Regions from separate parts of the Homo sapiens genome. Here region 1 is linked to region 2. The links come from fine-mapping of genetic effects on gene expression. A gene starts in region 2. The other region holds a variant in brackets. All regions are shown on one strand. Distances are from middle to middle.

Region 1 (3,034 bases), 25 kb before region 2:
GCCTCTCCAATACGATGAAAAGACCATCAGTATCACTTCACACCGAAGCCAATGACTGTTATCAAAAAACCAGAAAAGAGCATGTATTGGCCGAGATGTAGAGAAATCGAAACCCATGTGCATTGCTGGTAGGAAGGTGAGATGCTGCAGCTTCTGTGGAAAATGGGATGGTGGTTCCTTAAAAATGAAACAGAGGACTACCGCGTGATTCCGCCATTCTACTTCTGGGCATATACCCCAAAGTATTGAGAGCAGGGACATGAACACCAGTGTTCATAGCAGCATTAATCACAAGAGCCAAAAGGTAGAAACAACCCAAGGCACTTGTACACCCACATTTATAGATGTGTTATTCATAATAGCCAAAAGGTGGAAACAACCCAGTGTCCATGGATAGACAAAGGGATAAACAAAATGTGGTCTGCCCATACAATGGAATATTATTCAGCTTTAACTAAGAATGAAATTCTGACACATGCTACAACATGGACGAACCTTGATGACATGACGCTGAGTGGAATAAGCTAGATACAAACGACAGACACCATATGATTCTATTTACATTAGATTCCCAGAGTAGTCAAATTCATAGAGACAGAAGGTAGTATGGTGGTTACCAGGGCCAAGCTGGGGAGTAATAGGGGGTTAATACTTACGGTGAAATTCTGTAGTGGGTATAGACTTTCAGTTTTACAACAGGAAAAGAGTTTTGGAGATGGATGGTGTTGATGGTTGCACAACAAAGTTAATGTGTTTTGTTTTGTTTTGAGACTGTGTCTTGCTCTGTCGCTCAGGCTGGAGTGCAGTGGCGTGATCTCGGCTCACTGCAACCTCTGCCTCCCGGGTTTGGGTGGTTTGCCTGCCTCAGCCTCCTGAGTAGCTGGGATTACAGGCACCCGCCACCACGACCAGCTAATACTTTTTGTATTTTTAGTGGACACGGGGTTTTGCCATGTTGGCCAGGCTGGTCTCGAACTCCCGACCTCAAATGATCCACCCACCTCGGCCTCCAGAAGTGTTAGGGTTACAGGCATGAGCCACTGCGCCCAGCTGTTAATGTGTATTTAATGCCTCTGAACTATAGACTTAAAAATGGTTAAATGCCAAATTTTATGTTATATATATTTTACCACAATTTAAAGGAAAAAAAAAAAGAAGAGAGCATTGGAAGTAGAGCAGTGGATCTTAACTTAGGGCTCACAACTTCTTCGAGTTTTGTTTATAAAGCTATTACCTCTTCCCATAAATACATACATAGGTATATACAGATGCATACA[A/G]GTGTTGGCATATAATTTTTTTAAATTGAAACAGGATCTCCCTCTGACACCCAGGCTGGAGTGCAGTGGTGCAATCTTGACTCACTATAGCCTTCGCCTCCCAGGCTCAGGTGATTCTCCCACCTCAGCCTCCCGAGTAGCTGGGGTTACAGGCGCCGGCCACCACAACTGCTAATTTTTTGTATTTTTAGTAAAGACGGGATTTTGCTATGTTGCCCAGGCTGGTCTCAAACTCCTGGACCCAAGCAATCTGTCTCCCTTGGCCTCCCAAAGTGCTGAGATTACAGGTGTGAACCACTGCGCCCAGCCTGGCATACAATTTTTAAAAATAAAATGTAAGCACTCAAACTTTCAAAGTTAATAACATGTGCTTATTGAAAATGAAGAGCACGTGGAAGACAGAACTCAGAAGTCACCTGTAATCACAAGCAGATTACATGTGACCTTGCTCTTCTAAGTCCTTGTGTGTGTATACACACATAATTGAATGCATATTGTTATGTTGTTGAGATCACACAATATGTATCATATTTTCACACACAATGAATATTTATCAATTTAAAGTCCCAAAGCCAAGAGTATTTTGATAACCAAGAATACACTACACCATTTCAATCAGGAAAAAAAATGTAATTTTGCCTTTCATGGAGACAAAAATTTCCTGAAAGACAAAAATGGCAACAGTCCTCTGAATAAAGATGTTGGCAGAGTTACAATTAAAATACTGTGTTCCGTTAATGCTCAATTTAAAATAGGGTATAAAGCAATGGGATATAATCCTTCTAAGAGAATGATCAGAGCTGTCCTAGTAAAATGTTAGCAAGAAGGTATGTGTCCACTGAGTTATTTAGCAGTGTATTCTTATAGTAACCCCCAAAGAGATACACACGTACATCAATGGTTATCATCAAGATGGAAATAGCAATGTGTCTGTATAGTTCCTTCCTCATGCTCCTTCTGCCGCTCTGTTGCTGACCCAATTAATGAGTCCTGGGGTGCACTGCTCAGAGGTGGCTTCATAATACCACGTTCAAGAGGCTTCTTTTGTGTTAATTATAATAAAAACATTTACAAATGGGCCAATTCACTAGCTCTACCTTTTATCATACATTGTCATCTCAAGACATCTGAAAAACCAACGATGTTGTGAAATAAAGAATGAACATGGTCTACCTTTGCAAGGACATGGGTGGAGCTAGAAGCCCTTATGCTCAGCAAACTAACGCCTGCAGAAAACCAAACACTGCATGTTCTCACTCATAAGTGGGAGCTGAAAAATGAGAACCCGTGGACACAGGGAGGGGAACATCACACACTGGGGTCTGTCAGGGGAGTGTGGGTGGTGGTGGTGGTAAAGCATTAGGGAAAAGACCTAATGTATGCTGGGTTTAATACCTACGTGACGGGTTGATAGGAGCAGCAAACCACCATGGCACACGTTTACCTATGTAGCAAACCTGCACATCCTGCACATGTACCCCAGAACTTAAAATAAAAATAGAAAAGAATGAACGTGGTCTATAATAAACACAAGCACTTACTAAAAACTGCACATTTGGAACTGTGCTGATAACCCCAAATTGTCTTCTAGATATGGAGTTACCAGTAAGGAGCTCCACCGTGACTCTCCTCCCTGCTCCGTTGCCCCGACGAGGAAGTGTGAAAACGTTTCTGGCTCCATCCAAGAGGTGGGTTGACAGAGGTCGCTCCCAGAAGACAGTCCTTCCTATAAACTGGCAAAACAAAAATGCCTAAAG
Region 2 (2,500 bases):
AATAAAGTATTATCACATCTATTTATTTTTCTCATTTTCTTTTAACTTCTCTTTTGTGTATGTTCTAAAATACACATAATTTTCAGTTCATAGGGCATTTTCCCCTTGTAAGTAAATATGAATATATTTCAGAGTGAGCTCAAAGTTTTACGTTAGATTTAGGTAGGCATTTTTTTTTTTTTTTTTTAAGATGGAGTTTCACTCTGTCACCCAGGCTGGAGTGCGGTGGCTCGATCTTGGCTCACTGCAACCTCCGCCTCCTGGGTTCAAGCGATTCTCCTGCCTCAGCCTCCTGAGTAGCTGGGATTACGGGCACCCACCACCACACCCGGCTTATTTTTGAATTTTTAGTAGAGCTAGGGTTTCACCATGTTGGCCAGGCTGGTCTAGAGCCCCTGACCTCAGGTGATCCACCCACCTCGGCTTCCCAAAGTGCTGGGATTACAGGCGTGAGCCGACAAGGTAGGCAAAAGTTAAAAACAAAAAAACAAAAAAACAAAAAAAAATTTGGAATAGTCTGTAACAGAGGAGGGCTTGAAGAGAAGTGAGGTGATTTGCAGAAGCATCAGCCAGGAGGCATTCCTCCAGGAGAAAAATTTTTACTTAAAGGAGAGAGCTTAGTGATGGAGAAGGAAAAGATCTCGACAGACATTCAAGATTAGAATCATAAGTTGGCCATTGATTGGGTGTGGCTCTGGGAAGTGGAGGTGCTGTGGGCAGGGGCTGGCTTGGGCAATGAGAAAATGGTGTTGCTTATGTGCCCACTCTGTGCTGGGACTCAGCTGTGAGTGCCTCCAAATTCACCACATTTATCAAACCTCAGTGCTCTGAGACAGCATATGATGGCCTAGCAGGATGTCCATTCTTTTCCTGGAACCACCCATCCAGTTATCTCCTTGAGTCGCCTGGGTGGTGAAAAGTGGTCTCATGCACAATGGATGCGGTGTGATCCCCTTGCTATGTCACGCATGGCGTCTGCCCTCTTCCCTGGCACCTGTGCCACTCCAGGTTATGCCTGTGCTGCTGCCCATTCTACGCCCACCTGGAAAGCCTGAAACCTTCTCGTGCCTTCTACTGCAGCTGGGGAGCTTCTTCCACGTCTCATAGCCAGCTTCTCCAGAGGGAACTCCCAGAGCTGACTGTACTTTCCTACCTCAGCCTCTTCTTCCTGGGATGGTGTCAAAATATGAACAGATACAGCTTCATGCTTTCAGGAAACCACCTTCTCTTCCATCTTCTCCTTTGGCCTGCTCAGACAGCCAGACTTCTTAAACATATTTTTCCTACAGGCTCATGCAAATTAAGGGATGTGGCTGAGCATCTCCTTCAGTGCCCTCAAACAGGTCATGAATGTTGCAAAGCCCAGAATCGTGCTAACCTGGTAGAAGGCTGGTTTAGCCAGAACACACAGAGAGGACCTTCTCATGATGGTGTGGCTGAATTCCACATGTCACTAACAGTATCTTGCCCTGACCCGACTCCAAGTACTGATCCCCAAGGAAGGCATAATAGAGAGCCCATCTTGGGGAGGGATGATGACTTCATGTGCAAACAAGTCAAATTCAGGATGTGTGTTGTGGGCAGAGATGGCAATGCCCAGTCATCTGTTAGGTATACAGGTCCGCTGTACAGGAGAAAAATCAGAACAGAATTTCTATTTGTAGTGTTTCTTTTAGAGACTAGGGAATTGAAACCACAGGTGAATAAGAATGTACAAGGAACCAGGCCTTCTTGAAGAAATAGCTGAACCAGATTGGTGTCAGGAGCTGTACAAGGGGATCCAAGAATGTCTTGTCATACAAGCCGGACAGCTATTAAAGACAACTGAGGTCATGGCAAAAGGGCCCAGGCTTCTACTGGCCAACAATGAGACAATTTGAGCATCCCAAAGAATAATGACTTTAGTGGACTGAAACACATCAACATGTATACATCCATGAATTCATAATACTCAAAACGGTAAAACCAAACTCATTTGTTACCTTTGGAGGAGTCTGTCACCTCTGATTATTCTGAAAACTGGTAAATAGAAGGGGAAAATTCAAGCATTTATTCTGCTTTTCTTGTATAAACTGTACCTCACAGTTACGGAAGAGCTGATAAGGGAAATGTCTTCTTTATTGAAAAATTCAGCTGATACATTTGGAAGGAATGAGAGAATTACAGTACCACCATTAGGTGACAATGAGGGTCTGGTTTTTTATTTTTCTTTTGCTGAGTGCTGGGAACATAGTGATAACAAAAAAAGCCATAGTGTTCTGGCCCTTCTGGAGTTTTGATTCTAGCACATTAACCAAATAATCCCAGAGCAAAAATAAAATGTCAACTATGGTAAGTGTAGAGAAGGGAAAATACACAGAACTTTTAACAGCTTAGATCCGAGGAAGCTGACCAGCCTGCAAAAAGGGACAGCTTCCCTAGGGAAGTGACTTTGCAGCTGTGATGATGGATGACTAAGAGTTAACCAAGGAATGGGAGGAGGGAGGAGGAGACAGAGAAG

The links.
Region 1: its variant is fine-mapped to the expression of LINC02656 in whole blood (TOPMed, PIP above 0.99).

What each region holds. Positions count from the first base shown.
Region 1 is chr10:6,323,678-6,326,711 of GRCh38, forward strand. LINC02649 (long intergenic non-protein coding RNA 2649) reads left to right here and starts at 2,867. Exons shown (of 6, transcript NR_040079.2): 1 at 2,867-2,965. It also overlaps a transcript of PFKFB3 not described here. The variant A/G (reference allele first, on the strand shown) is at 1,278.
Region 2 is chr10:6,349,135-6,351,634 of GRCh38, forward strand. LINC02656 (long intergenic non-protein coding RNA 2656) reads left to right here and starts at 1,182. Exons shown (of 1, transcript NR_148966.1): 1 at 1,182-2,500.